Linked DNA regions of Homo sapiens: region 1 is linked to region 2. Evidence: fine-mapped expression QTL. A gene starts in region 2. The other region holds a variant in brackets. All regions are shown on one strand. Distances are between the middles of the regions. Region 1 overlaps SNX29 (sorting nexin 29). Region 2 holds the start of SNX29-AS2 (SNX29 antisense RNA 2).

What was found. PIP is the estimated chance that this variant, and not a neighbour inherited with it, causes the effect.
Region 1: its variant is fine-mapped to the expression of SNX29-AS2 in testis (GTEx, PIP 0.98).

What each region holds. Positions count from the first base shown.
Region 1 is chr16:12,214,825-12,223,163 of GRCh38, reverse strand. All of the region lies in intron 14 of SNX29 (sorting nexin 29), which reads right to left. Among named protein-coding and RNA genes, the nearest start is that of SNX29-AS2, 150 kb to the left of the region's middle. The variant G/A (reference allele first, on the strand shown) is at 3,274.
Region 2 is chr16:12,368,453-12,376,791 of GRCh38, reverse strand. SNX29-AS2 (SNX29 antisense RNA 2) reads left to right here and starts at 4,191. Exons shown (of 2, transcript NR_188406.1): 1 at 4,191-4,260. All of the region lies in intron 16 of SNX29 (sorting nexin 29), which reads right to left. LOC105371087 (a long non-coding RNA gene) reads right to left here and starts at 6,286. Exons shown (of 3, transcript XR_933083.4): 1 at 3,883-6,286; 2 at 3,764-3,790; 3 at 745-3,123.

The DNA of each region.
Region 1 (8,339 bases), 150 kb after region 2:
CTGCTGAGTGGTAGCATTGGGGTTCACCCTTACATGGTCTGACTCCAGAAACCCTACTCATAATGACAACTCACACTGAGGAAACGCATTTCAGATCACTAGTGTCAAAAGGAGACAAGAGCCAGAGTCCCAAATTTAGAATCCAAAGACCTAAACTCAGTTGCCCACTCCGCCACTTGCCAGTTGCAGAGCCCTGCATTGAGCCTCAGTTTAGCCACTTTCAAAGTGAGAATAATATCTACACCTGTGGCCTCAAAGGGCTGTCAAAGCATCCAAATGAAAACAGCACTCTGCAGGCTGGGCGTCGTGGCTTACACCTGTAATCCCAGCACTTTGGGAGTCTGAGGTGGGCGGATCACCTGAGGTCGGGAGTTTGAGAACAGACTGGCCAACATGGCAAAACCTCATCTCTACTAAAAATACAAAAATTAGCTGGGCATGGTGGCGGGTGCCTGTAGTCCTAGCTACCCAAGAGGCTGAGGCAGAAGAATTGCTGGAACCCAGGAGACAGAAGTTGCAGGGAGCCAAGATTGCACCATTGCACTCCAGCCTGGGTGACAGAGAGAGACTCTGTCTCAAAGAAAAAAGACAGCACTCTGCAAACTGTGAAGCTTCACCCAGATATGAAGTAGCCAGCCCCACTCTTCTTCCTGCCTGCACCAGAAGCCCAGCGGGAAGCTGCCCCAACTGAATGTCCATTCGATGTAAACATACAAGCTGGTGGTTGTCTTTTATCAAGTGGTCTTTTTCCCTTATAAAAACAATGCATGTCCACTGTGGAAGAGCTAACAAGGAAAGGAGAGGCTTAGAGGATGGGCTGACATCAATTTCAAGCCCGCTTGTTTGAGAATGTTTCAGTGGGCAGATCAACCATTTCTCCCACTATACAACCCCCTCAACCCACCCTCACCCCTGCACCCATCAGAAATCAATGTAACTTTACCAGGCTTGTTTCTGTTTCCTAATTTGCTCTGTGACCTTGGGCAAGTGACTTAAGCTCTCTGTGTTTCTGCATCTGCAGAATGAAGATCGTAATAGCACCTACCTATGTAGGCTTATGTGACGATTCAATGAGTCAATGTACAGATCTTCAAACAGTGCCCGGCATGGAGTTAGCACTACTTAAATTTTAGCTTTTATTCTTTATCATCCTCTCTACCTAACGTGGAAAGGTCCAGTTCCAAGGCAGGGAGAAGGGAGAGCTCACTTGCTCGTCACTGCTGATGAGTTGAAATGAGATGGTACGGTCAGTGACAGTGCCCTGGAATAAACAACCCCTCTCTTGGGAGTTCCTTAGTGCACCCAAGGAAGCACGGGATCATGCGGGGAAGAGGCAGTTGGGGCATTTTCAACAGACACGCTGGAGAGCAGGCAGACAGGACCAACGCATGCAGGGCCCTGGGCGCCACAATTTTCCAGCAAATGCGACGGATGTTCAGTCCTTCCCTTCCCAATACTTCCCCACAAAGCCACCAAAGTTAAACCCAAGTTGCTGGTCACTATAAGCCATGAATAGCCCATCTGTTCATCCTTTTTTTGTTTGTTCATTTTTGAGACAGTCTTGCTCTGTTGCCCAGGCTGGTGTGCAGTGGCGCCATCTTGGCTTACTGCAACCTCCACCTCCCGGGTTCAAGTGATTCTCCTGCCTCAGCCTCCCAAGTAGCTGCAATTACAGATGTGTGCCACCATGCCCAGCTAATTTTGTATTTTTAGTAGAGATGGGGTTTTACCATGATGGCCAGGCTGATCTCAAACTCCTGACCTCAGGTAATCCACCCACCTCGGCCTCCCGAAGTGCTGGGATTACGGGGCTGAGCCACCACACCTGGTCCATCTGGTCACCCTTTGGACAGGAACAAGACGAGGGCCTGATTTCCCAGGCTCAGTGATCTAGATAGTGACCCCCGGCTTTCTGCCCCCACCCTCCAATCTCTCCCCTCCCCACTCAGCCTGCTGCGTATCAGTGCCAAGTTTGCCATTCTTCAGAAGTACCAGAGATTACTACGTGTGCCTCGCAGAAAATGCCGAGTGGAATGAAGAAGAAGAAGAAAAAAAAACTTCATCATACGATTCATATATGGGCAAGAACTACAAACAATTCAGGGCGCTAAAATTAATTTGCTCCCCTGCCAATGAAGAGAGGGTGAGCATCGAGGCAGACTGTAATAAAGACGTACTTAATGTGTACAGCACATATTTATTCATTTTTAGAAAATGTGCAGCGCTACCACCCCCCTTCTCCCATAAAACCTGACCATCCTACTCAGCTGCTATTCTTATCCCTTGCTCATTTGCGTAATTTTAACACTGCAGAATATAGCCAGCCTAAGAATATGTTTTTATAATTACACCCATCACAGGAACTGTCAGCATCTAATGACGGATAATTTCAGCTATTATAAGAAGCTTAAAAGATCATTTTCATGAATAATTCGTAATATGAATCATTAAATTCAAACAATGTCAGAAATTAAAAGGAAAAGAAAAGAAAAATATTTTAGGTGCCTAAAAGTAACCATCCCTTTAAAGGCAGAATCCAGTCTCTGATGTGCACAGAAACAACGCAACATGCAGGGGAGATCAGCACGAGCAGGGAAGAAACATGCAAATTGGCTCAGGTCATTTCACTCTTTCCATTTTTCACCAGGTCCCCCTAGCCTGAGGATAAAATCACAGCCTCATAGCAGGTCACGCAGAGTCTGCCTGCTTGACCCCTGCCTGTCTCTCCAGTTCATCTCTCACCTCTTCCTCCTGCCACCCTGGGTCCTATGCAGGCCCCTAACCTCCCAGGGCTTTTGTGCCTGTGAATCTGTTGCTCTCCCTCCCTCCCTCCCTCCCTTCCTCCCTCCCTCCCTCCCATAAAGAAAACCTGACTGAAAATGAAATAAGCCTACACTGGAAGCAGAACCAACACAAAAAGTGATGCATCTTCCTGGTAAACTGTTTGAGCACCTGGATCCAGCCACACCTGCACCCCAAGCTTCTCAGCTCTGTGAAATAACACACATTCTTGTTACCTCCAACTCACAGCGCGGTGGCGAAAGGGTGGGGGTTCTTCTTACTAAAATAAGGCTGCAGGTCGCAAGAGACCCTGGAGTAACAGCAGAATCAGTTTTCAAGGCTTGTCTGGGCCAAAGCCAACAAAGCAGGACACTCAGTCAGGGACACAGAGAGAGTTGAGGCCGGGACAGGTACCGGTGGGGTGTGTGTGCGTGCACGTGCACGTGTGTGTACACGTGTGTGCGCTGGGGGGCTGTGGAGTGAGGGGTACCC[G/A]GATCAATGTACGAGTGATTGAGCCAGACCCAAGATAGGACAAATCACCTATAAGGTGGCTTGGCCAAGAGGTATGTCTACACTGCATGGTGGTAGCAAAGCCCCTAAATCCACTCTTTTCAGTGAAACACAAAAACCACAGGACAATCCTCATTTCCAGAGGAAACTGGTCTGTGCGTCACTTTGCAATTAGAAAAACATTATGTGTTAAAATACGCATGAATTTTCAATAAGAGAAAACATGTTTATACATTCAATAAGGAAGAGAGAAAGGGAAGAATGGTCTTCACGAACAGACAAGAACATCAAACTTAAGTACACCACGGCATTCCAGAATATTACCCCTTTCTACACAACAACTGCCTTCACACTACAGGTTGTATGTCATTAGCAAGGTAGCGAAAATAATCAGTAAGTCACAAGTGGCGTTTGCTAAAACAGAGTAGAACAGGACATAAAACATGAGAACGTTCTGCACGTAATAAAGGTTAAGTATTGTTCCCAGAAGGTTGTGTCTCAATGACTATATACACATATGTGTATGCTTAAAAGAGTATTTCTTACTGTGGGCCACAGTCAAAAAGGACTGAAAACCACTTTTATAGAAGATGTTACATCAAAAAAAAAAAAAAGATGATGTAGATCAAAGATGACAACTGACGATATAACATGTGGTTTGCAAACCAAATGATGGACGCTGCACCCACGCTTTGAATCAGCAACAGCACTTCTGAACCTCCTTCCTGCCAAAAGGCCCCAGGATATAAGGAGACAGCTTACTACAATCCTCTTTGTAGTAGCAAAAACCTGGAAACAGGGCCAGGCGCGGTGGCTCACACCTGTAATCCCAGCACTTTGGGAGGCCAAGGCGGGCAGATCACAAGGTCAGGAGATCGAGACCAACCTGGCTAACACAGTGAAACCCCGTCTCTACTAAAAATACAAAAAATTAGCCAGGACTGGTGGCAGGTGCCTTTAGTCCCAGCTACTTGGGAGGCTGAGGCAGGAGAATGGCGTGAACCCGGCAGGTGGAGCTTGCAGTGAGCCGAGGTCGCGCCACTGCACTCCAGACTGGGCAACAAAGCGAGACTGTGTCTAAAAAAATAAATAATATATAATAAATAAAAACCTGGAAACAACCTAAATTCCATCTATGAGGAAATGATTTGAAAAATTATAGCATAGCCACATGATGGACTCTAATATGCAGATATTAATGATTTAGCTATACATCTTTTGATCAGGAGGAAAATTCCTGACTGTTCAGTGATACACTCTTACCTGAAAAAAGCAAGGTTGACCAGGGATCAGCACACATTTTCTTCAGCGGGCCAGATGGTAAATATTTTGGGGTTTGCAGGCCACAGGTCTCTGCAAGAACTATTCAACTCTTGTGTTATAGCTCAAAAGCGGAGATGGAAATAATGAATGAATATGGCCATGATCCAATAAAACTTTATTTAAAAAGGTGGCATGCCCATGGGCCATGGTTTCCCAACTCCTGACATAGACTGTAATTCCATTTTTGGAAAAGAAATAGGAAGAATAGATATACGTTTGTTTGTGGAGTAGATTTGTGTGATTACCTCTGGTGATCTAAAAAGGGTAGCATCGGGAGAGATTAACTTCTTTACGTACCTCTGCACTGCTAGACTTGTTATAAAGGGCATATATTACTCATTTTTAAAAATCTAATAAAGTATTAAATTATTTAAAAAATCAAAGTATGAAGTACAAGCTCCAGTGTCTACTTCCACTGAAATCAATTCTCTGTAATATATCCAAACAATTTTTTTATCATTGCAAATAATAGAGCCTTCCATAATTCATATTTAATTGGATGTCAACTGTCATAATTGGAACTCTCCAGCTAAAAATTGTCCCCAAAAGGTGGGAAAAGTGATAACAAGTCATGGGAAACCAAGAAAAATTTTATTGTCTCCCAATGAGGAACCAAATTATACAGAAAGAGTAGTTTAAAACTTACACTCACAAGCCTGGATCTACTGTTCAGTAAGCCAGGCAGTTACCATCCACGTTTTATAGATGGAGGATGAGGCTGAGTTATGCCATCCCCAAATGACATGAGCATGAAGCCAAGATTTAGACCTGGGTCTGAATTCCAGTTGAATGAAATTCACTTGGCACTGATCAATAGCAGATAAACAGCACATATGCCCATGGTAAATCCAATCATTCATGCTCCAAGAACACCCTAGATTTACAGGGGAAATAAGCATGGGACTAAAAGCAGCTGGCCATCTTACTGCTGAAACATTAAGAGAAGGATCAATCCTGTTTCACCCAAACAGGGATGAGTCACTGCCTCACCTACGGGTGGCAGACATACTACAGGTGGTAGATATACTACCTGTACTACCTGTCTACAGGTGTTAGACACACTACCACCTGTAGGTTTCAAAGTATTGAGTAGAGACCATATTTCACATGTCTCCACTGAACTGACCCCATCACCGTATCTCTAGCAAAGCCAGAACCTCCTCCCAGATGGCTCATCAAAAGCACAGTGGCTGCTAACAAACAAGTGTGGCAGAAACAGCAGGTGTTGGGGGCTGGGCATGGTGGCTCACGCCTATAATCCCAGAACTTTGGGAGGCCAAGGCAGGAGGACTGCTCAAGCCCAGGAGTTCAAGACCAGCCTGGGAAACATCGTGAGACCCTGTCTCTACAAAAAATACAAAAAAATTATCCAGGTGTGCTATAGTCCCAGCTACTTCAGAGGCTGAGATGGGAGAATCACCTGAGCCTGGGAAGTCAAGGATGAGGTAAGCCATGATCACACCACTGCACTCCAGCCTGGGCAATGAAGGGACACCCTGTCTCAAAACAAAAACAAAAGAAACCCAGCAGGTGTCCCCTAATACCCATTCTTTTTGTGTTTAGCAAGAAAATCAGCAATTTTTGCTGGGTGCTTGGCCACCTAGGTGGAAAACAAAGAGACTATGTTTCCCAGCATCCCTTGCAGCTAGCTGTGGCCTCATGAAAGTGTCGTGGGCAAACTGCAGAAGAGAAGACAAGTGAACTTGAAGACTCAGCACTAGAAATGGAGAAGATGAATGAACTTGAAGACTTAGCAACAGAAATGGAGAAAGCGAGTGAATTTGAAGACTCAGCAACAGAAATGATCCAAAACGAGATGTAGGGGTGGGTGGGGTGGGGAGGGCACATGGGCAGGCAATGTGCCCAAGGTCACACTGCTAGCAAAGGGCAGAGCTAGAACTTTCTCGGCCAACACCCACAATCTAAGTCTTCATGCTATAAGGCTTCCCAGTACAGGCTGCATAATGAATGCTGTCTCACCTTCCTTAGGAAGACATGAAGGAGCAGACAAGACCAGTGGTCAGCTTGCATGCCCATCAAACCCGACTTCTTGTCATCTCGGACACACGTGTGGCTGGCTGCTGGCAGGTGCTTGATGTTATGTACACTCACATTGTACCTTCATCTGATTTTCCCAAACTCCCTACCAATGATTTATTGCTTTTTGTGCCATCATATTTCTTCTGAGCCCATAAAAAGTCCATGTGTCAAGGAAAGGGTCAGGGGAGGGGTCACAAAGCCCTTCAGGCAGAGAATGCTTCTCCCAAGACTGTTTGTGGCAAAGTGCCATACCTACTCGGAAAAATATATTCCAAAATATTAACAGTGCTTGAGGGTTTATCAATGATATTTTATTTTCTCCTTTTTCTCTTGTGTCTATCTTCTTTAATTTTCTATAATGAATATAATTTTGGGTTTTTAATAAGGAGAAAGAAAACACAAATTGTTTTTCAACAACTTTATTGTTGAGAAACAATTTAAGGCAAGCCACGATGAGCTCCGCAGGCTGCTTCTGGCCCAGGATGTATGCCTGCTTGCTGTCTACTCCAAATCCTTCATTTTGCCCAGAAGGCAGCAAAGACCACCAAAGCAAGGCCCCACAACTGTGCACGCACCACTCCTGATGGGCCAGCAGGAGGACCCCTGCACTCTGCTAATAGCACTATAATGAGGGCAGCCAGATGCAAATGAGGGCAGCAGTAATTAAAGGTACAGCCTTGCTTGGCTTAATTGGCTCCACAGGCAGGAAACGGGGTGTTTTTGGAGGAATTCATTCCCCAAAACAGTGAGATTACGAGGACAAAATCAGAAACAAAGGGTAAGGGGAAGCTGTGCAAGCTGAGGAATTCTGGGTACAGCACGTACCTCAAATGCCTCCCAGTGACTCTAATTAAGTGCACCCAACTAGGGCATCATAGGACTCAAGGTCCACCTGCCTGCCTGTTCCACTGCCTGGCAGAAATCTTGAACTAAAAAGACCAGGCACCCCCCTCTGGAGCCCAGGTTCCTGTGCCTACCCAGTCACCCCAGTCTATGAGCCCCAGGTGGGTAGATATAGAGTATTACTCACTTCTGTATCAGGACATCAGAGATCCAGGCCCTGCCACTCCCCAGCTGTGCACCTGGGGCAAAGCGCTTGATGATAACAATCTAATACTTACATAGAGTGCATGGAGGGGACTTTAGCCCAGAGAGTCTGGCCCCATTATACACCTTCTGATTTTTTTTTTTTTTTTCTGTAGAGATTGCGTCTCAAACTCCTGGCCTTAAGCAACCCTCCTCCTACCTCAGCCTCTCAAAGTGCTGGGATTACAGGTGGAAGCCGCCGTGCCCAGCCGGTCTCTGACCTTTCTAAGCTTCAGTTCTCCCGTGTAAATGGGGATAATAGTACCCACCTCACAGGACAGTTGCCATGAAGCAGTTAGCACAGGGTCTAGCAATGGTGCTTAATGCATGTTGGCTATTATTACTGGGTGCTCAGCAAACTCATTCATGCATTCACTCACTCATTTATTCATCAAATGTCTACTGATAACCCACCAGGGACCAGGCACTGTTTTGGAAGCTAGGTGCACAACAGTATCAACATCAACTCAGTCCCTACTCTCATGACCTTATATCCTGGCTAATGTTTCTTGAATCTGTCACCACAGAAATAAAGAGATTACATTTTTAAAGTATAAAATAGGCAGCAATAGACCTGGGAGTGACCAACTAGCAAAAAT
Region 2 (8,339 bases):
CAGTCTGCAGAAACTCCTGCCATAGAATTGTTCTTTTTTTTTTTTTTTTTTTTTTGAGACAGAGTCTTGGTTTGTTGCCCAGGCTGGAGTGCAGTGGTGCGATCTCGGCTCACTGCAACCTCTGCCTCCCAGGTTCAAGCAATTCTCCCTGCCTCCGCCTCCTGAGTAGCTGGGATTATAGGTGCCAGCCGCCATGCCCAGCTAATTTTTGTATTTTTAGTAGAGATGGGGTTTCTCCATGTTGGCCAGACTAGTCTCAAACTCCTGACCTCAAATGATCCACCTGCCTCGGCCTCCCAAAGTGTTGAGATTACAGGTATGAGCCACCATGCCTGGCCCCTGCCACAGATTTTCAATACGACCAATCAATCATTCCTACATAATCAATTACAGGGAAGCAGTAATTTTGGCTCAGATGATTTGTGACCAAAGTACAGTGCAAACACGGTTGTAAGACTCACTTCGTCCATAAAATAACTAGCGATTGCTCGGCTTCACCTGGCATTCAGCCTGTGACAACTCGCTCCCGGGGGGCCAGTAAAGGTGCCAGGGACGTGGCGTGGGGGCTGTCTTCAGTGATATTCCTGTGGTGTGCAGCCTTCTAAAACAGACCCCGTGGCTCCGGTTCCTGGTCCTCACCTCCTGGGTAATCCCCTGAGTGTGGCTTGGCCCTAGTGACTTGCCTCTGTCCTAATGAACAGATTAGAGTAGAATATAGTAGAAATCATGGAATGCCACTTTTTTTTTTTTTTTTTTTTTGAGACGGAGTCTCGCTCTGTCACCCAGACTGGAATGTAGTGGGTCGATCTTGGCTCACTGCAACCTCCGCCTCCCGGGCTCAAGTGATTCTCCTGCCTCAGCCTCCTGAGTAGCTGGGATCACAGGCGTGTGTAACTACCGCCTGGCTAATTTTTGTGTTTTTAGTAGAGATGGGGCTTCACCATGTTGGCCAGGCTGGTCTCGAACTCCTGACCTCAAATGCACCCCCACCTTAGCCTCCCAAAATGCTAGAATTACAGGCGTGAGCCACTGCTCCCGGCCAGAATGCTACCTCTAAAGCTTAGACTACAAAACACCCTGATTCCCATTTAGTTGGTCTCTCTCTTTTGCTTTCTTTGGCCGCAGTGAAGAGGCCTGGATAGGCAAGAAACCGAGGGTGGCCTCCAGTCAACAGCTGGAGAGTAACTGAGGCCCTCAGTCCAAGAGTCCGTAAGAAACTGAATCCTGCCAACAACCACACGGGTTAGCTTGGACGCAGATCCTTCCCTAGGAGAGCCCTGAGGTGTCTGCAGTCACCGGCTGAGGCTGTGGTTGCAGCCTGGGAGAGACCCTGGAGAGAGAACCAGCTGAGTGGCACGAGGACTCCAGGCCCACAGAAACTGTGAGATGGTAAATGCTGTCACTGCCAAATGTCCTTTTTCCTCTCAGTGTTGGGACAATTTGTTACACAGAGAAAGATACAATCACTAAATTGTACCTTTTAGCTATTTCTAAATTGTTTCATTTAGCTATTTCTGCTGTTTGCACTTAATGAGTCATTGGCATAATGTCAAATCATTCCCAATGAGTCTATGGGCGCCAAAATAATGGGGGCTAAAACTGCAATCCATGGATAAAATCTAGAGGAGTGTTCCCCAAACCCCGGTGCATCACAAAGCACCACCAGGATTCTTGCTACACTCGCCTCCCACTTGCACTGTTGCTGAATAACGTTGCCTTTTCAATCCATGCATTTTTTTTTAAGACAGGGTCTCACTATGTTGCCCAGGCTAGTCTGGAGCTCCTGGGCTCAAGTGACCCTGGGGTGGGATTACACCATTCATCTTTTTTCACTTATAACATTTACTTAAAAAGGAAAGTATGTATCACTCTAGCAAACAGAAAGCCAGTATCACTAGAAGGCAACTGGATCTGATGAAAGCCAAATGTCATTAAATCCTAAGTGTTAGTGGTTCTCAACCTCAGGAGCATCAGAATCATGCAAAACAGTGAGAGGTGCCCAGGTCCCATTGAAGAGATTCTCCTGCAGCTGATCTGGGGGTGAGCCTTGGCCTCAAGGCGTCTGGACTTTCTGAGCGGAGTCTACTGCAGCCGCATCTGAGAGCTCGGAACTTCCCAGTGGCCGACGGCACCATGACCCAGAGGCCCACACTCACTTTGTCAGGGTCTCCAAGAGTTAAAGCCGGGCTAGCATCAACCTCAGACCTCACCAGCATGGCCAAAAGGAAAAGGGGAACACCTTCCCAAGCAGAGCCCATATTATTCAACACCTGACCCTGAGACATCTAACATCACTCTACGATCACCAGGGCTACACGCCTCGTACTCCACACAGACAGACCCGAGAGCTGGACAGAGGCGTCTCTTTGGGCAGTCCTCTGTGGAAGTGACTGATCAAAATAAAGACATTCTGAGCAACAGACACTTGTAGGTTACTGCATCTGGTGAGGGACTGGATTCAGTCATTATAGCTCAGCTCACATGGTGTCTCCTCCACCAGGCTGCAGACTGTGTGAGTCCAGGGGACAGTGACCAAGGCCTGCTCTCTGCATCCCTGATGCCTAGGTCAGTCCCTGGCGTAGGGAAGACACTATTAGCATCCAATGAATAAATAGGTGAAGTGTCATCCAAACTGGATCTTGGGGAATGGGCTAGACACAGCCCACCATCCAGTGGGGAGAAGTGGTATTCCAGAGGGGACCTGGAGGAGCAGGGCCAAACCTCTGCTAGCCAGCCCTTGCTCCTCCACCATTAGCTTCCCCAGTTAAGCCCTGGCTTATTCCAACAGCCACTGCTGAAGGCACCAGTTCTCTCTGTGACTGATGGATAATTTCATACCCAAATTGGAAACCACTTAAATTGAGACATCAGGAAAACCAGAGGCGGGCAACATATGATATCTCTTTATATTTGACAGCAAGTAAAATGTGAAAACAGCAGTGTTGACCATCTTGAGACAAATAAACCCACAGTCCCTTGGTGGTTTGTGGGGCAGGCACAGAATGCTTCATTTCAGCCAAATTCACCATGTGTGTTCAGGGCATCGGTAGTCAGGATGCTAAGGTGAAAAGCGGGAACTAAGATTCACGCATTCAGCCAATGCTTTATACTCTGTATCAGGTGCTGGGGACACAGCCATACATAAAATGGACAAAGGAGAGAGCAAATAAACAACTCTATGCCAAGTAGCATTAGTATTATGAGGAAAAATAAAGCAGGAGAGTGCTATTTTAACCAAGTTTATGATATAAGCTGATATTTTATTCCCTACTTTGGATGATTTAGAGGCATTTACTGTTTAAAACCTCATACAACTCTCTTTGGTGGGCATTCCTAGACCCATTTAAAGATGAGGATATGGGCCAGGCATAGCAGCTCATATACTTGTAATCCCAGCACTATGGGAGGCCGAGGCAGGAGGATCACTTGAGCCCAGGAGTTTGAGACCAGCCTGGGCCATATAGTGAAACCCCATCTCTATAAAAATTTGAGTTAGCCAAGTGTGGTGGTGCATGCCTGTAATCCCAGCTACTCAGGAGGCTGAGGTGGGAGGACTGCTTGAGCCCACAAGTCGGAGGCTGCAGCGAGCTATGACTGCACCACTGCACTCCAGTCTGGGCAACACAGCGAGACTGTCTCTTAAAAAAATTAAAAATACAAAATGTAAAGAAATAAAGGTGAGGACATGAAGACTCTAAAAAGAGACTTACAGCTCCATCTCCTACTAATCATGGGGACATGGAGACTTGGGGATATTGCCTACCTTATCTGTGCCTTAGTCTTGTCATCTCTAAAATGGAGACATGAGAACCTACATCAGTGCTTGCTACTACATGCACAGCTCATGGAATAGGATTTGGTATGTAATAAGTGCCAGTATACCTGTCTGCAGGTAGGAGTGTAAATGACACTCCCACTTTCAAGAACTTCATTATCTCATGGAGAAGCCACAGGATACATCCATGAAACTAGCAATGAGAATATTGTGAGCAAACCATGTCGATTGATACCACCATTCCCGCTGCCTAACAGGCCCATCTTCCTGATCAACTTCAACTCATCCTTAAAAACTCAAGTCAAACGTCTCCTCTTTGAAACCTTCCATGACATACCCCAGCAGGTAACTAACCCCACCATTGTGCCATCATTATACTTGATACCTACAGAATTCTATTTCTTACTCATTGCTCATTCTTTCATTCAACTACTGTGCATCAACAGCCTGCCATCTACCACCCCCTCATGAACCTCCAGGGCAAGGTATGTTTAGTATGTCTGTGTCTTCCACCGACGACAAACTTCTTGGGGGCCAAATAACTGAGTGTAGCTCAACGGAATTAATTAACTAATGAATAAACAAAGAACAACATAAGATTAGACAAAGTGAGCGGTCCAGAGGGGAAGAGGATTACAGGAATTTAAAGAACATTAGAAACGTACCTACCAAAACTCACTATTGACAGCGCCACTAGGGGCTTTCTCAAAGAATGAATGACACCTTGAAGGATGGGGAAGATTTGGAAGAGTGTGAAAGAGGAGGAAGTCGACATATATTCATGACTGAAGAATGCAAAGTCTCAAAACAATCTGAACAGTATAAATTATCCCATTTGTGTTAAAAATAGATGTGCGTTAGGCATGTGTGTGTGTATATATATGCCTGCCTATATGCAAATGCATAAAAAATACCTGGAAGGGTATATACCAAACGCTTCACAGCAGGATCGCTAGGAGGGAACACTTGTCTTTTGTACTCTAGATAGTTGTGCATTATTTATATTCTTTCAGAAATGTATTTTTATATTATTTATATAACTTAGAAAAAATGTTAAACCATGTCTTCTAAAAGACAAATGGTGAAAATGCAGAGCGATGGAAGTAGAAGGAACAGGAGGAGCAAATGCTGAGGGACAGGACTCGGTGGAGAAAGAGCAGACGAAAAGACATAGGGCGAAGGCGAGAGTCAGGTCCTGCTTCGCCATCTGCCATATTATTTTTAAAACAAAGCTAAAAAATATCTGCGTTGCATTGCAGCACTGGGGGCAAGAGTTGGCTGCAAGCTTTGCTCTAACAGGACAGTGTGGCGATTCCCACAGGAGGCCCACACACTCAGGCTGGCATAGGCAATGACACCCTGGACAGGAGAAACGAAAGGAAGCCACTCTCCCCGAACAGAAATAAAAATCTGGCTGGGTGCAGTGGCTCACGCCTATAATCCCAGCACTTTGGGAGGCTGAGGCAGGATTGCTTGAGCCCAGAAGTTCGAGACCAGTATGGGCAACATAGAAAGACCCTGTCTCTACAAAAAAATTTTAAAAATAACAAAATTAGCCAGGCATGGTGGTATGCACCTATAGTGCCAGCTTCTCCGGAGCCTGAAGTGCAAGGATCGCTGAGCCCAGGAGTTTGAGGCTGCAGTGAGCTATAAGTACACCACTGCCCTCCAGCCTGAGGGACAGAGAAAGACCCTGTCTCTATTTAGGAAAGAGGAAAGGAAGGAAAGAGGGAAGGAAGGGAGGGAGGGAGGAGGGAAGAGAGAAAGAAAGGAAGGAAGGAAGGAAGGTTGGTCCAAAGGAGCTTGAAGTTCTTCCAACTTTATCAAAAGCCTTGGCTGATCCCCAACGCCTGGCTGGCAACATCAGTTGCATCCCCAACCACCGCTTTGAGATGGACAAGGCCCTCCATTTTCGAATATCTGGGAGAACACCATCTGAACTCTGATCAACAAAATCACCTTCCTCAGAAACCAGGACGGCAGCTCTGCAGACCTCATGGGCAAGAAAGCTGTGGCCCAAGAACACTGGGGTGTAGGTAATACCAAGGTGGTGCCCACCCCTCAAGAAGAGGTTATTTCCAGAAGAACAGGTCAAAGGGAGCCAATGGCTTGGCTTTTTGCAACTAAATCAGGGATCCCTTTACCAAAACATATCTATTCCCATCTAATCACATAACGTGCTGGTCGCCCAGAAAAGAGACAGCAATGAATCTAGGCACAAACTGCTCTGGTTCCCACAGACCAGCTGGCCAGGGAACCAAACTCCATGAAACACACAGCGAAACAGCATTGACTTTTACTAGGAGATTATATAAACTCATTTCAGGGAGATGGGGAAGCCTCCCAGAACACGCCGGAAGATGCCCTTGGTGCTGCTCAGTGCCTCGCCCAAAGTGCCTACGTGACTGATGGCCCAAGAGACAAGGAAGCAGAGATGTACCTTCATTTATTTGTTTTGAGACGGAGTTTCGCTCTGTCACCCAGGCTGAAGTATAATGGCACAATCTCCACTTGCTGCAACCTCCACCTCCCAGGTTCAAGCAATTATCCTGCCTCACCCTCCCAAGTAGCTGGGATTACAGGCACTTGCCATCAAACCCAGCTAATTTTTGTATTTTTAGTAGAGATGGGTTTTCACCACGTTGGCCAGGCTGGTCTCGAACTCCTGACCTCAGGTGATCCGCTCGCCTTGGCCTCCCAAATGCTGGGATTACAGGTGTGAGCCACCGCACCCAGCCACCTTTATTTTTGTTGTTGATTGTTTTTTGTTTTTGTTTTTGTTTTGTTTTGTTTCTGAGATGGAGTCTTGCTCTGTCTCTCAGGCTAGAGTGCAATGGCACCATCTTGGCTCACTGCAGTCTCCACCTCCCGGATTTAAGCGATTCTTCTGCTTCAGCCTCCCGAGTAGCTGGGATTAAGGGCACATGCTACCACGCCCAGTTACTTTTTCGTATTTTTAGTAGAGACAGGGTTTCACCACGTTGGCCAGGCTGGTCTCAAACTCCTGCCTGACCTCAGGTGATCAGCCCACCTCAGCCTCCCAAAGTGCTGGGATTACAGGCATCAGCCACTGTGCCTGGCCTCAAAGAAAGATTTTTTCAAATAAGAAGAAATCGTTCAAAAAATACATAGAACATCAGATGCAACTTGTGCGGAAGGTGTGACTAACAAGAAGTGAACCCTCAATGCAGGGAAATAAATATATTAAATTAAGGAATAAGTATAATGTATTTAGTTAGAAGACTTGTACAACTATTAACATAATCATGTGGTTATTATGTATCCCTGGAAATACTGTGTGTGTTAATTTAGCAGAAATTGAACAAATTAACTTAGTATCTAGAGGGATGCGTCATAGCCAGTGAGATTTACAAGGTGGCACTGAGACAGAATGGAAAGCACTGGGAGGGTCCACATTTTTAGGATGACAGAAATGAAATGGTCAAGGACAGTGTCATCACCTGACCATGTACAGGAGAGGACCTGGCCCAGACCAGCTTCTAGAGGAGTCCCACGCGGTTGCCCCAGGCACAGGAACCCCTTTCCCATGCTCATGACATCATATTAAGATATGAACATGCGGCCGGGCACGGTGGCTCACGCCTGTAATCCCAGCACTTTGGGAGGCCAAGGTGGGTCGATCACTTGAGGCCAGGAGTTCAAGACCAGCCTGGCCAACATGGTGAAACCCCATCTTTACTAAAAATACAAAAATTAGCTGGGCACGGTGGCACACACCTGTAATCCCAGCTACTCGGGAGGCTAAGGCAGGAGAATTGCTTGAACCTAGGAGGCGGAGGTTGTAGTGAGCCGAGATCGAGCCACTGCACTCCAGTCTGAGTGACAGAGCAAAACTCCGTCTCAAAAAAAAAAAAAGATATGAACATGCTAATAACATGCATACCAGGCAGGAGCAAAGAACCAGGGTCTTGAGATTACTCCCTGTGGGAGAGGTGAGTGGAGTCTGGGGGCAGTTTCTATAAGAGACCAAGAATGAGATCAGAGGAAGCTTACTTATTCAATCAGAGCAGGCCTTCCTGCACCAATAATGAATGTGGGTCATGAGCTCAGGATTTTGATGAATCCATATCTGTGCACCCGGTTCAGATGAAATTCAAAGAACAGAGAGGCCATTTCAAGAAGGAATGGGTGGTAACTAAAATGAGAACAAGGGGCACGTGAGCCCCAGGAGAATCCTGGTGGCCGCTGCCTGTCACTTCTCCTGCAGGTGACGTTGTGAGCGGCAAACTCAAACCATGCATTCACAAACATATGCTGGAGAAGAGAAGACAGGACAGGTAGAACGGAGGGGTAAAAAGCTGCCTTCCAATCCCAGCTTCTATTCCTTCAGGATCAGTGGCAGGAAAGATCTCAGCATTATCCAAGCAGGACCTCTGTCTCCATGCCAAATAACCATGAAGTGAAGCCAGAGAGACACAAGTCACACAAAATATATTCTGGGCTTTGACCTTCTCAAAGGCAGGGACTGTATTTTCCACGTCTGCTACATCTCCGTAGTCTTCCTCACATTGGGTAAAGTGGCCACACAAAACACAGTGACCGA